Regions from separate parts of the Homo sapiens genome. Here region 2 is linked to region 1. The links come from fine-mapping of genetic effects on plasma protein levels. A gene starts in region 1. The other region holds a variant in brackets. All regions are shown on one strand. Distances are between the middles of the regions.

The links. PIP is the posterior inclusion probability: the model's chance that the variant is causal. The UK Biobank Pharma Proteomics Project read protein levels with antibody pairs (Olink). The fine-mapping took linkage between variants from a reference panel, not from the people measured, so its PIPs are less certain.
Region 2: its variant is fine-mapped to the plasma level of the TNFAIP2 protein (UK Biobank, PIP above 0.99).

The regions. Positions count from the first base shown.
Region 1 is chr14:103,113,967-103,125,499 of GRCh38, reverse strand. It overlaps TNFAIP2 (TNF alpha induced protein 2), which reads right to left and starts at 2,039. Exons shown (of 12, transcript NM_006291.4): 1 at 1,549-2,039. LINC00677 (long intergenic non-protein coding RNA 677) reads left to right here and starts at 2,591. Exons shown (of 2, transcript NR_138038.1): 1 at 2,591-2,891; 2 at 4,469-4,651. RefSeq lists silencers at 1,748-1,797, 2,098-2,377 and enhancers at 2,042-2,575, 2,576-3,108.
Region 2 is chr14:103,137,717-103,149,249 of GRCh38, reverse strand. It overlaps the pseudogene NDUFB4P11 and the pseudogene RPL21P12. Among named protein-coding and RNA genes, the nearest start is that of TNFAIP2, 20 kb to the right of the region's middle. RefSeq lists enhancers at 8,804-8,853, 8,884-8,933. The variant A/C (reference allele first, on the strand shown) is at 6,389.

The DNA of each region.
Region 1 (11,533 bases):
CTCTTCCTTTCTCTCATCTGGAAGGGTGTTATTTCGGCTTAAACTGTCCCTATAGTCAATAGCTTGGGCTTGGAACTCAGGCCACCCGGTCCCAGAGCCCAGCTTTCCCCTGCCTCCACATCCCCAGCTATCCTGCAAGCTACATCCAGAGAGGCAAGACCCGAGCTTCCCCAGAGTCCCTGCCCAGCACCTGACCATTGTCAGAGCAAGGCCAGGTCCACTGGAGAAGAGCATGGCTGATCTGAAAGGGGGAAGCAGGCAGGGGCTGGGCCTCCCCAAGAACTGGGGTGACCTGTAACCTTGATGCCACCTGTCTGCCCCACCCCAAGACTAAATGCATGCAGCCTTGTCTCATGTATCATGGTAACTTCAAGTGACCCCTGAAACAGCCCTGCAAGGCAGGCAGGATGATCCACCATCCAGAAGGAGAAACTGAGGCTGAGTAGGAGGTGTTTGCCCCAAGCACAGCAGCCATGGAGGCTCAGACTGGGCCCATCCGACTCTTCCCATGGCCCCGCTGCCTCCACCAGCCCCACTACCCTGTCCCCATCCTGGAGGGGCTTGGCCAGAGCCACCTGAGGGACAGGAAGCCTGGGCTCCTCCCACCCCCAGCCCCTGCCATGCTCACCCAGTGCCCTGGGCAGAGTCCCACACTCCTGGATGGCACTGGCCTCCCTAGTGCCATTTGGGTTGAGCATTCCACTCCAGGACCAAGAGGGGCATGCTCCAGGGAGCCCCAGGGGCAAGGCCATGGGGCACCTCTGCTCCCCACCCGGTGCCCCAACTTCGCTTCCCAGCCCCTCTCAGGTGCATGCCTAGCACCCGCGGGAGCTGGTCTGTCTGGCAGGGCCACTCAGCCCCACCCTGGGTGCCCAGGCCCCACCTCTGCCATTCTCCTGGGGTGGGGGAGGGTGGCCCTTACCAGCAATGCTCCCTGCCAGCCTCACCTCAGCCTTCCCTGTCCCACCCCACATGTACTAGGCTCTGTCCCACCTCCAGGCACAGCTCCCGCAGGACCCCCACAGCATCACCGCCTTCTCCCCTCTGTGACACGAAACCCAGAGCGCCTGAAGGTCCTGCTGCAGCCCCCTGGGCCTCGCCCCAGGTCTCCGCTCTCCGAGGCAGCTGGTGCCATGGAAAGAGAAACGCTTTCGGTGTGGGCTCAGCACACTTCTCACTAGTGTGTGGACTGCACACCTCCTTCCTTCACAAGCCGCCGTTTCCCCGTCTTTGAAAAGGGGATGAGGACCCCCACCCCACAGTGCTGCTGAGGGGATGTGGCCAAACCGCACAGCCAAGTGCTGGGCGCCTAGCTGGGCCTCAGTGGGGGTGAGTCTCCTGTGTCCTGAGTCTGTCCTGCAGGCAGCAGCGAGCCGGTGCAGCCAGAAAGGAAGAAGGGGAGGAGGGGCGTTCCTTTGAGCCTTGCCGCTGGTTGGGCCCACTGAGGCAGGAAGGGGCCTGCTGGGAGGCTCGTAGAGGGGTCACAGCCAGTGGCTCAACAGCGCCCCCCAGCCTCCTGCTGCCCGGCCTCTCCTCAGGTCCACTGACCTGGCTCGCCTTCCCCGTCAGGGCTGATGTCCACACACCTCCCGGGAGCTCGCTGGGCCCGGCTCCTTCAGTCCTGGGCAGGATGTGGAAGGCGCACCCATCCCCCGATGAGGACACCCGGGCACGGGCGAGGAAGTGACTCGGCCTGTGTCGCCCGGCCGGGGAGTCACGCCGGACCTGGGGCCTTTCTGCTGTAATGGAGGGGAGACCCCTGCGCCTGCCCCAGCCCCGCCCTCCCTGCCTCTGGCAGGCCCGGGCCCTCAGCCAGCCTTGGCCCCTCTGCGCCCGGACGCGCGGACGCTGGGCGCGCCAGGGCCTCAGTTTCCCTGGAAGCGTCCAGCCCCCTCCTGTCCCCGCCGCGGCGACAGGCTCTTTCCTCGGGGAATCCGGCCTGGCCTCGGGGTAGGGGCGGGCGAGAAGCCGCGCGGAGCGGCGGGGAATGGACGTGTGGAAGCGGAGGTCACTTACCGTGTCCCGGCCTGGCCGCCACTGTCCTGGCCCGGGTTCCGCAAGGCCTGAAATAGTCGCAGAGTCAGCCCCGCCCCGCCCGCCCCTCCTTCCCCGCCCCGCCGCAACCGCGGAAAACCCGCGGGCGGAGGCCAAGGCCCAGCGCGGCCCGGCTGTGTCCCTGCGTCCCAGGGGCTGGGCGCGCCCGGCCTGCCCAGCGGGGGATGCGGGGCGCTGTCACTTCCTCCCAGCAGCCGGGCAGGGGCGGGGGGCTGGCCGCGCGTCGCATGGTATGTGGAGTTCGGGGGACGGCACGGGGACGACGGGGTTGTCAGGCGCGGAGCCATTGTCCGACGACGGCTCCTGATAGGCCGCCTGGATGGGGCGCGCTTGGCCGCGTTCCCGCGTCACACACCGGCTCCAGCTGCGGGAGAGCCCGTCCCACCCCAACTCCCCAGCCGCCCCTCTGAAGTGTTCCGGTGTCACCGTGGCCACAAGGAGGCAGGGGACGGGGGCTTCCTGAAGGAGGCCCCCTAAGGGGAAGGGGGCTACAAGGCTGGCCAGAGTGCTGGCCGCGCGGCTGTGCACAGGGCCTTGAGCCCCTCCGGTCGTCAAGCCTTGCTTGAAATGCGTAAATGCGGAAAGGTGAAGTGGCTGACCCGGCTCACACCACTTTAAGTAGCGGAGTGGGGTTCCTAGCCAGGCCTATGGGACTCCCACTGGAGCCTTTCCCCCTCTGGGGCTGGGGCTGGACCCACAGGCTGCCGGAGCAGGCAGAAGGGGAGGGGCCCAAGGCCCAGACTCCAGGGCCTCGTCTGGATCATCAACCCGGCTTTGCCCATTCAGCGCAGGCCTCCGTTTCCAGGCCTGTCTCCCCATCCACACCGTCTCTCAGGGTTTGTTTTGGGAGATGTGGGGGTGGGGCATGTGGGGAGGATGGAAAGGGGCTGTGAAGGGAACCCACTGGAGATTCACTTCCTTCCTTATTTCACACTCTAGGCTAGGAATTCCTGCCCTCTGGAAAGGACCCAGACATTTAGGAATTTCCCGCTGGGCAGGGGCTTCCCTCCTGCCTCACTGGGGCCTCTGCTCCTCCCCTCTTTTGTTTGGCCTCTTTCCCCGCCCCCTGATCACTCCGCCACCCCTTCTGCAGCCTAGTAACAGGTCTTCCAGGACCAGGGGGGCCAGCGGAGTGGGGGCGGCTGTGGGTTCAGGTGCCCTGGGAACTGAGAACTTCCTCTTCCAGAGTGCTGGCCAAGCGCCAGGTTTGCACTCGGATTGCCATCCATCATCCTGTCTCTGGGGAACCTGTGGGGGAGCGGATGCGGGAGGCCGCCAGGATGCAGGATGGGGCGTTAAGGCTGCCAACCCCACCCCTTCTCTCCTAGGACTCCAGGGATGACATTTTTCAGATGAGTCCACAGAGCCGCGGTGTCCCGGGGCTGGGAGGGTCCTTCCACCGGCACCGCGCAGATGGAGTTCATCCACACAGGGGCGATGAGGATACGGGCTGAGGGGCCCTGGCCGGTGGCTGCCTTCACGGCTGGCTGCTGTGGCCTCATTGTGCAATCCCCACAAGCCTCTCCTGCCAGACTCTGTTCCCCCACCCCACCCCCTCACCCCCCCTCCCATTCCCAAGCAGATCGGGAAATTGCTCGGGAAGTCTGCATCTGCCAGGAGGGCGTTGTCAGGCCTTAGGCCCCACTGTCCCCTCGAAGGCAGCCCCTGGTCTCCACGGGCTTTGCAGGGCTGAGGCGGGGCTGCCACCCTTGTCCCCCACTGACGGCAGTGGCCCGCCCAGAGCACCGGCTGGGGATTGGGAAACGAGGCTGCTGCCTTGGACTTGTGTCTGCACCAGTCACTTCCCCTCTCTAAGCTCAGGCATGAGGGTCAATGGTAACATACGTGAAGTCCTCAAGACAAGGAAAGTCTTCTGAAAATGGGGCAGCATGGAGGCCCAAGGGATGACAGCCAATGGGGCCCATAGGGCAGGAGCAGTCCTTACCCTCTTCTCGCAGATGCAGAAAGCAGTTCCCAAGAGGCCAGGCACTTCCAGAGGAGCCAAAGGCCAGCCTACGGCTCCTCCCCAGCAGGAAGCCAGCATCACATGCTGGGTGGCGATGTTTGTGACCAGTGGCCAGCGGCTGTCCCATTCCCCAGCTCCCCAGGGCACAGGCCAGGGGCAGTGAGCAGGGGGCTCTGCCTGGTGGGGAGGGCAGCAGACAGGAGCAGACTGGCAATGACCTCTCCATTTAGCCTAGAAGGCGAGTGTGCCAGCACCTGGCCAGGAGCCACGGTCAGCTCCTCGCACGCAACCCAGGGCCTCAGAGGCTACGACACATGGGATGTTCCCTCCCTTCTGTCTGCCAGAGCAATGACAGCTGACTGTTTAAAAATTATTATGGTACAATATACATAATGCAATTTATAATCTTTTAAGTGCACAGTTCAGTGGCATTAAGTATATTCACAGGGTCGTGCAACCAACAGCACCCTCCACCTGCAGAAATCGTCACCTGGCAAAACGGAAACTCTACCCACTATGCACTAACTCCTCTTTCCCTCTCCTCCGGGCCCTGGCAACCGCCATTCTACCTTTCGTCTCTGTGGTCTTGACTATTCTATGTACTGCAAATAAATAGAGTCACACAGCGTTTATCCTTTTGTGTCTGCATCTGCCAGGAGGGCGTTGTCAGGTTTATTTCACTCAGCATAATGCCTTCAAGATTCATTCATGTGGTAGCAGGTATCAGAATTCCCTTCCTTTTTGAGGCTGAATCATATTCCATTGTATGGATGGGCTACACTGTGCATTCATTCATCTCTCTGTGCACACTGGGATTGCTGCTACCTCTTGGCTGCTGTGTACAGTGCTGCTATAAAACATGGGTGTGTATACCAGGTGTGGTGGCTCATGCCTGTAATCCCAGCACTTTGGGAGGCCCAGGCGGGTGGATCGCTTGAGCTCTGGAACTCAAGATCAACCTGGGCAACATAGTGAGACCCTGTCTCCACCAAAAATACAAACAATTAGCCAGGTGTGATGGGGTGCACCTGTAGCCCCAGCTACTTGGGAGGCTGAGGTGGGAGAACCACCTGAGCCTGGCAGGTTAAGGCTGCAGTGAGCCATGATTGCACCACTGCACTCCAGCCTGGGCAACAGAGTAAGACCCTGTCTCACAACAAAAACAAACAAACAAAAGAACACGGGTATGCAAATATCTGTTCACGTTCCTGCTTTCAATTCTTTTGGGTAGACTGCTGATGTTTGTTGATCTCCACCGGTGCCAGGCGTTGTTCTAAGTGTTTTGTATACATTAGCCGATTTCATCGGACAGCCTAATGAAGTGGGCACTAACTCTCTTCTTTTCACAGATGAGGAAACTGAGGCACAGAGCGGTCCAGTCATGTGCCAGCCAGTGGTGAAGCTAGGAGCCCCTTCACTAAGCACAGTGTTATCTTGCTTCTCCTCCAACGTTGCTCAGCGTCTGAAATTCAGCTTGATGTATTTAAGTCAGACACAAGAAAGGACTTCTAGACCAAGGAGTTTAGATGCAGAAATGGGAGGTACTATCCTTCACTCCTTTTTCACCTTGAAAAAAATTTTTCCCAATCTTTTTCATTACCTCATTTAGTCCATTAATTAAACCTCCACCTGCGCCCTGTAGGGCAGCAGAAAAGGCCGATTCAGCACGGACCAGAGAATAACACAGGGAGGCACATTACTGGCCCTCTCTCTGCATTCTTGAAGGCACCTAGAGGAAAGCTCTCTAGAAGAGGGGCAGTTGGGGCTGGGCATGGTGGCTCACCCCTGTAATCCCAGCATTTTGGGAGGCCAAGGCGGGCGGATCACCTGAGGTCGGGAGTTCGAGGCCAGCCTGACCAACATGGAGAAATCCCGTCTCTACTAAAAATACAAAATACAAAATACTAAAAATACAAAATTAGCCAGGTGTGGTGGTGCATGCCTGTAATCTCAGCTACTCGGGAGCCTGAGGCAGGAGAATCACTTGAACCTGGGAGGCAGAGGTTGCGGTAAGCTGAGATCACGCCATTGCACTCCAGCCTGGGCAACAAGAGTGAAACTCCATCTCAAAAAAAAAAAAAAAAAAAAAAAAGGAAGAAGAGGGCAGTCGAAGGCAGAAGGGAGAGCAACCTGGAGCAGGGCCCAGGGTGGTGGGTGATCACGAGGGGCAGAGGGCCTATAGGTGGCTGGGCCTGGCCAGAGGCGTGGCTGCAGCTGCTAGCCTTGGTCACAAGAGTGGTGCTGACCTCAGGGTGGGTCACCTAGCCCCTCCCCCAGCAGCCCGGGCCCACTTCCCTCTGCATGATGACTTGCACTTCCCACTGCCCTAACCCTGGTTCCCAGGACCCCAACACTCACCCTGCTTCTCCCTTTCACTTCTCAGGCTGTCACCAGCCCTGAGACTCTTCCTGGGGATGCCCTACTGTCTGCATGGGGTGGGGCCATTGTGTTCCCTGTTGACAGATGAGGAAACTGAGTCTCAGAGAAGCAGGCACAGAGGTTGAGGCCTTAAGCCTGAGGTCCCTGCTGCCACCCAGCCTTCCCCAAGAGGAGCAGTGACTTGCTCAGCATCACCTACAGCTCCATGAGACCCTGGCTGAAGTCTGCTGACCTCCTCCGGGACTGTGGGATGGCCAGGACAGCTGACCAGGAGCCACTTTCACGGCACATCCCCTCCTGCAAAGGAGGGAGCATGAGGACCCTCAGCAGCCCAGACATGTACCATCAGGCGGTGCCCCACCCCAGCCCCACGGGACACTGTCGATTTGTTGATAGCCCCCCTGCCCCTTTCCTCCTAGGAGGAAGCCAGGCCAAGGATTCCTTTTCGTATTTGGCAGATGGAGAAACCGAGGCCTGATGAGGTATGGCTTCTGCAGCTATTCCATGAGCCTGACCCACTGTCCTTGCTGGAGAAGGGCCATGGGAGAGAAAGCAGGGCCTATGGGGCAGCAGGACCCCAACCCCAGTGGCCTTCCAAATAGTGTGGTGTAGGAGGGCTTCCTGGAGGAGTGGGTCCTGGTGGAACTCATGGGCATAGGAAGTTCTCTATGCCAGCTGCAAGCGGCCACTCTCCTCCCCAAGTTCAGCTCTCCTAAAACTCTAGTCTTTCACCACAGCTCTCTGGTACTGATGCAAAATGCCTAAGTGCAGCTCCGGTCCCTTCTGCCTGGGGTTCCTGTAGAACATGGGCCCTTCTCGGAGCCGGCATAATTTCCAGGAAAACAGCTGCAGAGCTACGGCCTATGCAGGGTTCTGCCAATGACAGAGGCCAGTCACGTGGCAGGACCTCTCTTGGGAAGCCCAGTGCTGCTTCATGGGGCTGTTTGGAGAAGGAAGTCGGGGAGGAGAGGGGAGGGAAGGGGAAGGAAGAGGAGGGGAGGGGAGGGGAGGGAAGAGGAGGGGAGGGGAGGGGAGGGAAGAGGAGGGGAGGGGAGGTGTTACCGGGAGAGACTATATCCAAGTCATGAAGCACTGAAGTATGTTAGCAGGAGCAAATCCATCCAGGTCTGCAGCAACCTCAGTTCTTACCTCCTCAGAAAAGAGAATTCAACTGAGAAGTCTAAGGCAAAGTGAGAGACTGCAACAAGTTTGAAAGCAGGAGTGAAAGTTTATTTAAAAGCTTTAGAGAAAGAGCCTGGGCAACATGGCAAAACCCTGTCTCTACCAAATAATAAAAATAATAACACAAAAATTAGCCAGCGTGGTGGTGGGCACCTGTGGTCCCAACTACTCAGGAGGCTGAGGTGAGAGGATCACTTGAACCCGGGAAGTGGAGGTTGCAGTGAGCCCAGATCATGTGGCTGCACTCCAGCCTGGGCAACAGAGCAAGACCCTATCTCAAAAAAAAAAAAAAAAAAAAAAAAAAAGGCTGGGATCGTGGGATCGCTGGCTCACACCTGTAATCCCAGCACTTTTGGAGGCCAAGGCGGGCGGATCACCTGAGGTCAGGAGTTCGAAATCAGCCTGGCCAACATGGTGAAACCCTGTCTCTACTAAAAATAAAAAATGAGCCGGGTATGGTCCCAGCTACTTGGGAGGCTGAGGCAGGAGAATGGCTTGAACCCGGGAGGCAGAGGTTGCAGTGAGCCAAAATTGCGCCACTGCACTCCAGCCTGGGCGACAGAGTGAGACTGTCTCAAAAAAAAAAGAAAAAGAAAAAAGTGGCCGGGCGTGGCGGCTCACGCCTGTAATCCCAGCATTTTGGGAGGCCAAGGCAGGCGGATCACCTGAGGTCAGGAGTTCGAAATCAGCCTGGCCAACATGGTGAAACCCTGTCTCTACTAAATATACAAAATTAGCCAGGTGTGGTCCCAGCTACTTGTGAGGCTGAGGCAGGAGAATCGCTTGAACCCGGGAGGCGGAGGTTGCAGTGAGCCAAGATGGCACCACTGCACTCCAGCCTGGGTGACAGAGTAAGACTCTGTCTCAAAAAAAAAAGAAAAAAAAAAAAAGTTTTAGGGCAGGAATGAAAGGAAGGAAAGTACACCTGGAAGGCCAAGCGGGTGACTTGAGGGATTCTAGTGTGTGGTTTGACCTTTGACTTGGGGTTTTATACGTTGACATGCTTCCACTTCCGGCGGGGGGCCATTGCATTCTTTCTGAGGATTCTTCCCTTGGGCTGGGCTGTCCGCACGCGCCGCCATGGCCTGCCATGCCAGCACCTGGGAGGGGCCGCATGCGCGGTGTGTTTACTGAAGTGGTGCACATGCTCATGTGAGGCGCTCTTCCCTTACCCGTCGAGGGTTTCCCGAGGAAGGTCATACATGAGTTAAGCTCTGCCATTTTGCCTCTTAGTGCTTATGCTTGAGCCCACTCACCCGACTCCTGAGATCTTATCGGGAAGTTGCTGATCACTAGTACTAGGTGCTTCTATGTAAGAGAAACACCTATGTTGGGAAACTGCCTTTCCCTGGTGCTGGCTGCGACCAATTATTATTTTAGAGAGACAGTGTAACAACTGCCTATCACCTGATGGTTGCGTGACATTCCTAGGTGCTCTCCTGCCCTGCTCACGTCTGTCTACTGTAACAGAGGCTGCTCAAAAACCACGCAGGCCCTGTGACTGCCTCCAGCCCAGGTTCTGGGAGCCCCCTCCTTGCCGGACAGCCAGGAGCTCTGACTTCCAGACTTTGGAGAAGGAGGGCATCCCACTGTGGGCTGAGGCGTGGAGACCACCTGGGCCCTGGTACTCCACTGCTTAGAGCTGTGTCTTTCCATACATTGCTTGGGACAGTGACATTTCCTTGGGACCTCCTGGAGATGGCACTGGCACACTCAGAGGGTTGGCAGGGATGGCTTAAAGGAGGTAGTGCAGATAAATAACAACGAATGCCACAGGTAGGAGGATGCTCTTGGAGAGCCAGGCCCTCCTCCAGCCAACTCTTGCATTTTCTTGTGTAATCCTCCCCAGTTTACACAGGGAGATGGAACCCAGAGAGGTGGAGTGACTCACACAGGTCACACAGCTAGGAAGGCGCAGAGCTAGGATTCCAGCCCAGAGGTGTCTGAGTCCAGAAGCTGATTCGAAATGCCAGCCCTGAGTCCAGGGAAAGCAGGAACATCATACACCACCAGAGTAAAGCACATGGTGGGCGCCCCACAAACAGCAGAGCTTCTCATGATGAGGCAGGAGAATAGGAGGCAGGGAACCTAAGGCTGTTTCGTTCCTACTTCCTAGAACTATATTGAAAGGAAAACCCACACAAAAAAATTAACTGGGCGTGGTGGCGGGCACCTGTAATCCCAGCTGCTAGGGAGGCTGGAGTGCAATGGTGCTGTCTCGGTTCACTGCAACCTCCGCCTCCCGGGTTCAAGCAATTCTCCTGCCTCAGTTTCCTGAATAGCTGAGATTACAGGTGTCCACCACCATGCCCAGTTAATTTTTTTGTATTTTTAGTAGAGACGGTTTCACCATGTTGGCCAGGCTGGTCTTGAACTCCTGACCTCAAGTGATCTGCCTGCCTTGGCCTCCCAAACTGCTGGGATCACAGGTGTGAGCCACCGCGCCCGGCCTCACCCTAGCCTCTGACTGGTTGCTTTTTGCAACCAATCAGATGTTTGCACAGGAGTGTGACCTTTGTAACTTCACTTCAGCCTCTGGTTGGCTGCTTTCCGCAACCAATCAGGTTGATTGCAGGCCACCACTTCATTTACATGAGGTGAGCATGAAGTGGCCAACGGGAAACTTCTAGGGGATATTTGGACCCAAGAAGATTCTGTATCTGGGCTGTTGAGCTGCTGCTCGGGCCACTCCCACACTGTGGAGTGTACTTTCATTTTCAGTAAATCCCTGCTTTCGTTCTTTCGTTGCTTCATTCTTTCTTTGCTTTGCTGGGCATTTTGTCCAATTCTTTGTTCAAAACGCCAAGAACATGGACAACTTGCAGTCACGACCCTCTACTGGTGACTTTTGTTTTCCCCAAGATTCTAAGAGCCCATTATTTGAGGATTCTATCCGTCTAAGAGCCTTGAGTTCCTCATTTGATGTTTATAGGGATCAAGAACGACTGCCCAGGCCAGGCACAGTGGCTCACACCTGTAACCCCAGCACTTTGGGAGGTTGAGGCAGGAGGATCATTTGAAGTCAGGAGTTTGAGACCAGCCTGACCAACATGGTGAAACCCTGTCTCTACTAAAAATACAAAAAATTAGCTGGGCAAGGTGGTGGGTGCCTATAATCCCAGCTACTTGGGAGGCTGAGGCAGCAGAATCGCTCGAACCTGGGAGGTGGAGGTTGTGATGAGCTGAGATCACTCCACTGCACTGCAGCCTGGGTGACACAGTAAGACTTCATCTCAAAAAAAAAAAAAAAAAAGAAAAGAAAAAAAGAAACGACTGCCCTATCCTGTCAACCACCTCCAGCAAAAACAGGTTCCTCACCAATGCCCAGAATGTCACCATTCATATAAATCCCTTGGGCAAGAATCCCTTTTTAACAACTCAAGTGTCCCGCAAGGAACCTCGGTCACTTCTGGGAATGGGAGCAGGAAGACTAGAGATAAGAAGGGGACTTTTTACCCTATACCCTTTGCGTATCTTTTAAATTTTGACCTATGTGAACGTATTGCTACCCAACACATTATTAAGCATTTAACACATTTTTAAGGCTGCTAATAGATGGGTGGGCATATGTGCAGACAGAAGTGAGGGTGTCCCTGGAGAGGCCCAGGCCCCCAGGGCCCAGGAGAGGATGGACCGAGGGGTGGGTGTGACTTGTCCAAGTTTCACTCCCCTCCAAGTGTTTCCCAAGACCAGGGTCCCAGGAGGCCAGGCTGAGATTTGGGTGGCTCCCAGCAGGATCTGATCCTGTGACCTGGGGCACTGTGGACCCCGCCCTCTGCAGCGGCAGTCTTGTTGCAGCACAGTGGCCGGCAGGTGCCCACTGACCAGCCTTCCACAGGGAAGGGGGGGGACGGGCAGTGTTGTGGGGCAGCCCACTCCTGGCCACCCCCCTGGGCCTCATGATGGCCTGTGAGTTGCATGCGCCGACGGCGGCCCTGGGGCTTCTTTGCG
Region 2 (11,533 bases), 24 kb before region 1:
TGGAGTTTCACTCTTGTTGCCCAGGCTGGAGTGCAATGGCGTGATCTCAGCTCACTGCAACCTCCGCCTCCCAGGTTCAAGTGATTCTCCTGCCTCAGCCTCCCAAGTAGATGGGATTACAGGTGCGTGCCATCATGCCTGGCTAATTTTTTGTATTTTTAGTAGAGACGAGTTTTCACCATGTTGGTCAGGCTGGTCTCGAACTCCTGACCTCAGATGATCCACCCGCCTCAGCCTCCCAAAGTGCTGGGATTACAGGCGTGAGCCACAGTGCCCGGCCCAGGTACCTTTCTCTGTGGCCTCTTTCTTTTTCTGATCATTTTCCTTCACGCGTCTCAGGAAGCTGTCTCGGCTCTTAGAGTGCTTCATGTGCTCAATACGCACATTAGTTCTCTTGGCAGGAATCTTGCCCTTAGCTTGTTTGTCTACAGCAATGCCAACAGCATGCTGGGGAACATCGTAGACTCTTCCAGCTTTGCCATGGTGACACTTGTGCGGCTTCCTTTTTGAACAGTTCCCATTCCCTTGATGTCTACAGTATCACCTTTCTTATACATTCGCATGTACGTGGCCAAAGGAAAAATTCCATGTTTTCCACAAGGCCTGGAGAACATACATCGGGTGCCTCTCCTCTTTCCCTTTGTGTTCGTCATTTTGGCGAATTACTGGAAAACGGCGGTTCCGGCTGAAAGGGCTTTGTTATCTTTTATTTTTGTATTTAAGTAAGCTTTATTGTTTGTATCTTATACTTCAAAAAAAGCTCAGATAAATATTTAATTTGTATGAGTCACCTGGGGATTGTACAATTGCAGACTCTGATCTAGTAGGTCTGAGGAAGGCATTCTTTTTACTGATTGATTGATTGATTGATTGATTGATTGAGACAGGGTCTCACTCTGCCACCCAGGCTGGAGTGCAGTGGCACCATCTCAGCTCACTGCAGCCTCCACTTCCCAGGCTCAAGTGATCCTCCCATTTCAGCCTCCCAAGTAGCTGGGACTACAGGTACACACCACCATGCTGGCTAATTTTTTGTAGAGATGAGATCTCACTGTGTTTCCCAGGCTGGTCTCGAACTCCTGGACTTAACCAACCTGCCTGCCTTGGTCTAACAAGGTGCTGAGATTACAGGTGTGAGCCACTGCACCCAGCTGAGGCAGGCATTCTGACTTTCTAAAACCTTTCCCGGCAGTACCCATGCTGCTAGTATCTTAACCATTCTTACAGTATCAAGATCCTAACACACTGCTTTCTAAAATGTAGTCAAACAACATGAAAATCCTTTATTTTAATCCATGCTTCAGTTCCTTTTTTCCTTTATACTTTGTATTTATTTATTAAATTGTGGTGAAACATACATAACATAAAACTCACGATTTTCACCATTTTTAGGTCTACACTTCAGTGGCATTCAGCACACTCACATTGTCGTGCAACCATCATCACCATCCATCTTCAGAATTCCTTTCACCTTGCAAAACTGGAGCTCTGCACCCATCATACAATAAATCCCCATTGTCCCCAACCCTTGGCAACCCCCATTCTACTTTCCATCTCTATGAATTGATCTTTATTTATTTATTTAGAGACGGAGTCTCATTCTATCACCCAGGCTGGAGTGCAGTGGCGGGATCTTGGCTCACTACAGCCTCCGCCTCCTGGGTTCAAGCGATTCTCCTGTCTCAGCCTCCCAAGTAGCTGGGATTACAGGCGTGGGCCACCATACCTGGCTAATTTTTGTATTTTAGTAGAGACAGGGTTTCACCATGTTGGCCAGGCTGTTCTCGAACTCCTGATCTCAAGTGATCTGCCCGCCTTGGCCTCCCAAAGTGCTGGGATTACAGGCGTGAGCCACTGCGCCTGGCCAAATTGATCTTTATTATTTAACATTCCACACACCACTACACTGGCCCCCTGCATTGGTGATATAAAGCTGATTGGATCTGATAAGAAATAGCACATCCTCTAGAAGCTTTAATAAAACATATGTCAGCTAGAAGATGGGGGATAAATCCCCCCAAATTTGAGACCTGTGATTTCTAAGCTTCTTGGGGGTTATTTGGGCTGGAGAATTTTGAAATATTCACTCTAAGGTGAAGGCAAGTTGCTACACCTCCCACTACCTACTATGAAGAAAGAGGCAAATGCTTGGAAGGGCTTTTGGGGGTCTCACTATGTTGCCCAGGTTGATCTCAAACTTCTGGCCTCAACCAATCCTTGTGCCTAAGCCTCCCAAAGTGTTGGGATTACAGGTGTCAGCCACCAGGCTGGCCCAACACATTTTAGTGTGTTACCATGACCCATCTCCCGAGTGCCCCATAAGGCAGCCAGTTTCCATAAGAGGCTGAGCAAGAGGAGGTTCTGCAGGCCTGGGCTGCTCTATGCGTACAAGCCTCTGTGCCGCCCAGCCCTGTGAGCCACTGCTGCTCAACATATCCATGACAAGCGCCAATGGGAAAATTGCAGTCCGGACCTCTAGAATTGTGGAGCAATTCTGTGCTCTCTTCTGTAGATAACTAGTTTCCTTCTGAGAAACTGCTTCTCGCTTTCTACTGGGATTCGAGTCTGAACGCCCACCCCTGTGTCATTAGGTGATCATTCAGCCTAGTTCCCATTAGGGGCCGGGCATGGTTGGACCCACCCAGCCACCAGGCGTGGGATCTGCAGCGGTGGCCTCTCAGTCCATGTACGCAGTAGAGGCAAGCTGGGGTGGGTCCAGACGGCATGGGAACTTCACAGGGAAGGCAGGTGGCCCAGACTCCCTCAGCACCTACCCCTGCTGCCCTGTCTCCCTTCCCCATCCATGCCTCCAGCCTCCCCGGGTACTCCTCACACCCAGTTGGCTGAGGAAGAAACTCGAGCCTGGTGACAGAGGGCTCGGCATGCTATGCCAGTTCCCACAAAAGTAGACATGAGTACTACAGCTCCACCGGCCGAGCCCCGGTAGCGAAGGAACCCTCCCTAGGCGCACAGTTTGAGCCATTCACTCGGCTGTCCACTACATGCAGACAGAGAGATGCCCAGAGGTACAAATCCGTGCCCACTTAGAAACAGCTGCTAACAGTTTGGTTGGATGTTCGGGGACCTGGAAGAAAAGGATTGGAAGTTTGGTAACAAGGATGTCTGAGGAAGAAGTATGCGGTCAGCCTCTCGAGATGGACACAGACTACAGGAACATTTGCGCATCATATAAATGCTCAGCAAAGGGTGTCCCCTTCAGAAGAGGCTGAATCAGGTAAAAGAAGGAAGTTCTGTGAAGTCATCAGCCAGACCCTGTGTGTTTCCTAGGAATGCTGCAACAAAGTGCCGCAAGCTGCGGGTGCTTAGGCCCTAAAAACGTGCCATCTCCCAGTTCTGGAAGTTAGAAGTCTGGGGTCAAGGTGTCAGCAGAATTGCCTCCTTCTGAGGAAGTGAGGGAGACTCCATCCCAGCCCGTCTCCCAGCTGTGGGAGTTTTCTGTCAATCTCTGGCCTTTCTTGGCTTGTAGAAGTGTTACTGGAAAGGGGCCCCAATGCAGACCCCAAGAGAGCGTTCTCAGATCTCACACGAGACAGAATTAGAGGCAATTCCACAGTGCAAAGTGAAAGCAAGTTTGTTTTATTCTATGTATTTTATCTTTTGAGATGGGGTCTCACTCTGTCACCCAGGCTGGAGTGCAGTGGCGTGATCTTGGCTCAATGCAACCTCCACCTCCCAGGCTCAGGTGATCCTCCCACCTCCGCTGAAACTACAGGTGCACACCACCATGCTTGGCTAATTTTTTAAATTTTTCACAGAGACAGGGTTTCACCATGTTGCCCAGGCTGGTCTCAAACTCCTGGACTCACGCGATCTGCCCGCCTCGACCTTCCAAAGTGCTGGGACTACAGGTGTGAGCCACCACACCTAGCTGCAGGTTTATTAAGAGAGTAAAGGAATGAAAGAATAGCTACTCCTGGATGGGCATGGTGGCTCATGCCTGTAATCCCAGCATGTTGGGAGGCTAAGGCAGGAGGACTGCTTGAGCCCAGGAGTTTGAGACTACCCTGGACAACATAGTAAGACCCTGTCTCTATAAAATATATATATATATTTTGGCCAGGCCCAGTGGCTCACGCCTGTTTTATATTTATATATATATATATAAAACATAAAATATAAAATATATATTTTATATTTATATATATAAAACATAAAATATAAAATATATATATTTTATATTTATATATATAAAACATAAAATATAAAATATATATTATATATATATATATTTTTGACAAGGACCAGTGGCTCACGCCTGTAATCCCAACACTTTGGGAAACCAAGGCAGACAGATCACCTGAGGTCAGGAGTTCAAGACCAGCCTGGTCAACATGGTGAAACCCCATCTCTACTAAAAATACAAAAATTAGCCGGGTGTGGTGGTGTGTGCCTGTAATCCCAGCTACTCGGGAGGCGGAGGCACAAGAATTGCTTGAACCTGGGAGGCAAAGGTTGCAGTGAGTCAGGATTGTGCCACTGCACTCAAGCCTGAGCAACAGAGTGAGACTCTGTCTTAAAATATATATATATATAATTTGTATCCTGTAAATATATATATACAAATATGTGGCTGACTGCCACGGTTACTACTTGAGATCATCCCCACAACAATTACTACTTTTACTACTTGAGACCGTCATTACAAGACTGAACGAAGAGACAAACGTAGAAATGAAAACTGAAGACAAAAGAAACTGTTTGAAAGGAACTGTCCAGGGAAGGATGAAGAGAGCTCCCTGCTTCTAGTGGACAAAGGCAGCCCCTGAGCTTCCATAGCCCTTCATATTTATTGGGTAGCAAGAGCAGGGAGGAGGAGGTAATGACTGGTCGGCTGCTAATTGATAACAGGTTCATGTTATTACTAACAGGCTTCAGATGTACCTAATCTCAAGAAACACTGCGTTTGGGGAGTGACTGCCCTCAGCATCCCTTCTGGGTGGCAGACACAGTTTGTCAGTTTGCCAACATTCCGCATTTATGAGAAACAGTTTGCTGTTTACTCATAGAGCCTCCAGTGGTATACTGAACTGATCACCACCCTCATTCTTTCGGCCTGTAACACAAATATATATACAAAAGATACATACATATATATATTATCCTGTAAAATAGAGCCCCCAAAATATATACATATATTTTTTAAGAAAAAAAAAAAAAAGAATGACTATAGACAGAGAAGGGCATTCCTTAAAGTAAAAGGAGGACCAAGCCCAGCCTAAGTACAATGCCTGTTTAAGATACGAAAATCATAGGAGATGTGCTTTACTACAAGGGTTTGTGATAGAGGATTAATCTTTGTAATTACCATCTTTCACAAGAATCGATATTATCTTTAAAACAAAACGTCTTAAACTAGGAATGCTTGCGTTCTCAAGATATTGGGACATCAGGACATTCCAGGTCTGTTAGTAAACATTATTAATCTGCTCCCTCAACCGTAAACTCTTGCGACTAACAATGCCTAAGTTCCTGGGAATGTAGCCCAGCAGGCCCCAGCCTCATTTTTCCCAGCCCCTATTCAAGATGGAGTCACTCTGGTTCGAATGCCTCTGACAGGAGCAGCACCCTGATCTGTCTCCATCCTCACACTGCATTCTCCCTGTGTCTGTCTCCAAATTTCCCCTTTTTAGGACACCAGTCGTATTGGATTAGAGCCACCCAATGACCTCATTCTAACTTGATTACCTCTGTGAACACTCTAGCTCCAAGTAGGGCCACATTGGGAGTTACGATTTTAAGATGAATTTGGGGGGACACAATTCCCTAGCCACACCAGCGCTTTTTCAATGAACCCACAAACAATGTATTTATGGTGACCAAGATGGAGGCTACGCATGGGCCCAGCAACACGGGCTCATCTCTCCAGGCTGGTCTGACTAATCTCACTGCTGGCAGCCCCCTCTCACAACCCCAGAGAGCAGCACTGAGTGCCTGATGGCACCTTCCCCCACAGAGAGCAGCCAGCATCTGGTAGCAGGTGGGTCCTGGTCTCTTCCATCATGGAGGGGACACAGACTCACCTTCCTGGAAGGGACACACTTTGCCTCCCTTACCCAGAGTGTTTCTGCAGCACTGCTGCTTGTAGCCTCACGTGATGCCTTTCACCATCATGGCTTCCATGCAGGGCTGCTTCTGACCAAGGAACCCATTTCACCACCAAGGAAATGCCACAGTGGCTCGTGGCCGTGGAATTCACTGATCTTACTGCTTATTCTATCACCCAGAAGGAGCTAGCCTCAGCAAAAGACTGAGTGGCAATACCCAGGAAAGATGGACTCTATTTTACAGGATTCCATATACGCTTTGAATCAGGGGCCACCACATGGTTCTACTTCCCTTATAGCCAAAATGCATGGCTCCAGAAACC[A/C]AGCTGTCACAGGTAGTGACTAACTAGGACCAGTGGCGCATGCAATAAAGGAATTTACCAAGAGAGTTGTAGGTAAAGACAGGCAGGCTTATTAGAGAACACAGGAAAATACATTGCAAGAAAGCAATGGGCAGATCAGCAAAAGGGGAGCTGACTACAAGGAGACAAAGACTTGTGGGGGATTTTATAGGATGGTGCTTGTGCTGGAGAGGGCCACGCGCAGTGCTGATAATGCCCAGGTTGCAGCGAGCTAACTGACACTTGTCTATCGGCTGAGGATCTGGCGATAAGATGGGCACAGGAAGATTGTGAGTTATTTGCTTAGGAGGGCTCTGTGTGTCCTGGGCCATGTAGAAAGGCAGGCTTATAGCTTATCTGTTTTTTGTTTGTTTGTTTTGCTTTCCCTGCTCCCCCCAGCCTGACTCCTCTTCCCCGATTAGAACTCCATGCAACCAGTTGATATGAGGGGGATCCACTTACTATTACCCCCAATAACAACCAGCTGGCAGGATTTTTGCTTCCTGTCGCAGCAACTTTGAGCTCTGCTAATGTGAAGGTCTTAGTCCCGGAGAGGAACATCCTTCAACCAGGAGACACAGCAATGGTTTCATTAAATTGAAAGATGATGCCGCCACCTGGCCATCTGGGGCTCATTCTGTCATGACACCAAAAGACCTAAAAAATGATTGCTCTCTTGACTGCAGTGATAGGTTCTGATTCTCCTGGGAGACCAGGCAGCTGCTACTATGTCTGGAAATCAGGGCATTCATTCTCTGCGGCACTTCTGACTATTTCCATGGCCAATAGAAAAGGTTCATGGAAAACTACCCCAGCCATAGAAAGGCAGGAAAATTGAGGACTCAGAACCTTCTGAAATGAAAGTTTTAGTTGTTTCATCAAGTAAAGATCACCAACTAGCTGAGGTCCCGGCTGAGGGAGGGGAAAATCCAGGATGAGTGATGGGAGAAGGAACCATGGACTTCAAGCCTCGGCTCCCAACTGTCACGGAAGCAAGGAGTGTAGTAGTTTTGCTTAGTTTCCTTTGCTTGTTTTCACGTGTTTGTTTCCACATGCCAACCATTTTCCTGTTTTCTCTCGCTGGCATCTGTATTGTACACACAATTTTTTGGAGGTTAGTGTTACCATTCAGTCTTCAGGTAACAAGATATTCAGTGGACTGTGGTTGAATTTGTGGTGTAATTAACAGAGCCAACAGTGGCTACAGTAACCATTGGCACCTTGTCCTCACTGTCTCCTCATTTTGGAGACAGCGTGAGTGCATCTTCACTTGTGGGAAGGATACATGTATTGCATTTACTGGAATTTTTAGAAAAGGTTAAACGTGTGTAAAAGGGTGCATATGGAAAGCAACTGCCTGCTATCCATCTACTGCCTCTGACCCAAGCCCATCTTTCACTGCCCTACTTGGGGATTCTGGAACTTTTCCCTCTCTCCTGCTGGCACGGTGCTGTGCACTGTCAGTAGAGGGCGCTGGAGAGACAAACAAGGAGGGAGGGGGGTTTCTTTTCACTTGTTTATTGGCTGCTCACCTGCACAGCCTCCCAGGACGGCTTCCCCCGCCTTGCATAAGTAGCTTTGCAGCAAGTTCTGAGGCACAGCACCTGGCTGTGCATGGCTTACCTGGCATCTCAGGAGGCTGCGGGGTCTCACTGCAGGGATGGTGGGGGCATGCATGGGGGGCATGCATGGGGGGCTGAGGGGCTGCAAGGCAGCACAGGGTCAGAGGATGGGAGTTCTGGGGGCGACCAGGGACTGCTGGGTATAGCAGCAGTCAGTATGGGTATCGCCCATCGGTATGACTTCTCCCTGGCAAGCCCCTCCCACGGCTCAGCTATCATCCTCCATAGTGATCGCCTGACAAAACCAGAGTCTTGGTTAAACTCAGCCCTGTGATTACAGTCTGCACCTCAGCGCTGAACTTGGCTTCACGCCAAGTCACAGGTTGCTGATGAACCCACTTCAAAGAGGCGCTGGACATGGCTGGTTGAGCCTACCCCTGAGACACTAAAGTATTTTCCTCCTCTCTCCTCCCATCTCCAGCAACACCACTTTCATTTTCTCAGTTAAATGTTCAGTTATAAAATGCTAATAATATAACACATTCACATGCCTCATAATGAAAATTTACAAGCTATACGGCCAAATACCTCCTTCCTAACTTCTGTCCCCATCCAACCCTGTTCACCTCTCTCTCTCTCTCTCTCTCTCTCTCTCAGACACACACACACACACCACAAACTCTGCTCTGCACTGTGCTTTTTTCCACTTAACGTTATGTGTCCTGAATGTCAACATGAGAACAGAGAGAACTTCCTCATTCTTTTTCACCGCCACATAGTACTCCATTGTTTGGGTGCACTGCAGTGATTTCCCTGGTGTCTGCCGATGGGCATTTAGGGAGTTTCCAGTATGTTGCTACTGTAACTGAAGTGACTAGTCTGGCACTCAAGTTGCTTTGCATAGCTGGTAGAGCATGGATAAGGTACATTCCTGGAAGGAGAATGGCTGCCTCACAGGTTCCTGCATTTGTCAGCCTGACCCGGAAGCCCAAATCACCCTCCACAGGGGCTGTGCAAAATGATGCCCCCAAAGCAGTGAGCGAGAGAGAGGGCCTGGCGGCCGGCAGCCTCGCACACAAAGTGTTGTCACTCACCGGGGTATTGGTCACTCTAATGAACCACATGCCCATTCTGCAGACATCTCAAACTTTAAAAAAAAAAAAGATTAATAGAAGATTTATTTAGCAAAAATACATATAGCCATTATTGCAAGACTTAAATGAGATGTTAAATGTTCAACCCAATTTTCTTTCCTGGATAAGTTTTTCTTTCATATCCCTGTCAGTTTTGAAAACATAATACCAGAAGAAGGGGGGCCCAATTCCACAGAGAGCTCCCAAGAGTGAGTTTCTGGGAGTGAGTCTGAAGTTGAGATAAACCTTTGCTGATCTTGCTTACGTTCAATGCATCTGGGCAGCGTCTTTGATGAGCCCTGGCGGTTAGGCTGGTGGCACTGAAGCAGGCCTCCAGGGTCTCCTGTTTAAGCAGGATTTTAAGGCCAACCCTGCGGCTTGCGCCTGCTGGGTTTCTGGAGATGTGTCATATTCGGCTGGGTTGAGGGTCCAGGGCAGAGTGGCCAGGCATGAGAGAAAATACTTTGGGTCAACACCTGTGAAAAGAAGGAAAAAATAAAAATAAAAAAAACACCAGAAGAATACTTTGGGAACAACATCGTGGTGACACAGGGCACAACTGCGAGTGCGGAGGGACCTCTCCCCCTGAACTTGACCAAGCGCTTCCTCAGCCCTTTCTCCCCTCCCAGGCCCTCCCTGTCCCTGGAAGCAGCCTGGTTCCCTCCCGGTCTCTTAGAAGCCCCTGGGCTGCTCTTTCCCTCAGCCCACCGAGAGCTCGCTCCATCTCACTGCACGAGGGGGCCCTCGCTGCCGCCCTCATCTCTCCCCTGGGGACCCCAGCGCCCCCGAAGGGCAGAGGGGTCTTTCCAAGCCATAAATCCCATGAGTTGAAACTCGCGTCTCCAGCCCCTTCCAGCCCCGCTCCCCAGCTGGAAGGAGCCCACTTACCGGCCCCCTCCTTCCTCCTGCGGAGTCTCCTGTCCAGGATCCCTTTTCCCCAGTCCTGCCGTCTTTCTTTGCCTGAAACCTGGAATTCCTCCCCGTTCCCGCCCGCCGGCCTCCGCAACCTCCTCCCTCCCCCGCAGCGCCCAGCCCGGGTCTGCTCCAGGCACCTCCTCAAGACCGGGCCTCCAGCGACTGTCCCTTTGAGCCGCCCTTTCACCCGCAGGCACCCCCGGCCCGTCCCCGCGCCTGCACTCAAGCTGCTTGTTTGCTTGCTCCTGGCTCCTGCAGGGAGCGTCAGCCCCCGGGCTGCTTCCCACTGCTGGAGGCCGGGGGCGCCCGGTGTTCCGCGGGGGCTGCGGCCTCCCCGCTCCACCCCTGCTCACAGGAGCCTGGGCAGCCCGGGGCCCGTCCTTGCACAAAGGCACCAGGCCTGGCCCAGGCCCCGCTCCGCCCGCCCTGTCCCCGCGCTGGGGGACTCGCTCCCCTCCGCCGGGCAGATCCTCCTCTCCGGGGGATTTTCCTGGAGAAGTTACTGGTGCAGATCCAACAGCTGGCGGGACAGTGACCCGGAAGGCCCCCGCCCCGAAAAGCAGGAACAGCAGGAACCTCCAAGGCGCCGCCCGCACCCTCTTCCTCCTCGCCTGGGGCCTCGCGCCCGGAGCCCGCCCCTCTGCCAGGGGTGGACGCAGCCCGGGGAGGGGGGTCCACCTGGCCCCAGGTCCCGCCGCGCTCCGACGACTCGGCCCGCCCTGGCCGCCGCGAGGCTGGGGGTCACTTTGGGACCTAAGTCCGCCCCCGTGGGAGAATGTGTGCCAGGGCCCACTGACAGCTTCCATCGGGGCTCAGGCGCCATCTCTCCCCACGTTTGCCCAGGGTCAGGGGGCCATGCAGGGGAGAGTCGCGCTGCCCCCACTTCCCCCTGACCCTGTGCTCCGAGGAGAGGAACGGGAACTCGCCCGCCCAAGGCCCACGCTCCCCACGTGGCTCAACCAGGCCAGGACCTCGCAGCCACATGGACCGGCGGGTCCAGGAGCCGGGCAGAGGGTCTCCGTGCCAAGCCGCACTGCCCCTGGCCCTCGTCTCCCTCCTTTCTCTCACTGCACGGTGGCCTCATGCCATCCGCTTTGGCCCCAAGAATGGAACTCAGGAGAAAGGGCCTGCCCTCCCCCACCCCCAGCTCCGGGCTGTCCCAGGCCCTGCTGAAGCCCACACCCCTCTTCAGGTGCACACGGCTCCCCTTGGGGCCCTCCCCGGCCTCTGTGCAACGTTCATCAAGGTACCCTTCTTCCCTTCCAGGGACTCTGCTCCTTCCCAAATTCCAGGCCAGATTGGCTGCGGAGAGGCCCACCCTTCCGTGGCAGCTGAGCCCGTCTCTGAATACAAACCAGACCTCCTGTGTCCACAGCTGTAGCTTTCAGGTCAATGCCAGCATGGTAAGAGTCAGTTCCCACTCTGTGTCCCGTGCATGCGGTTGAAATGGCTGCCCCGTGTCCACCCCACCCTCTTCCTCAGTAAAGGACGGTGGAGGAAGCCCCAAAGGGTCACAG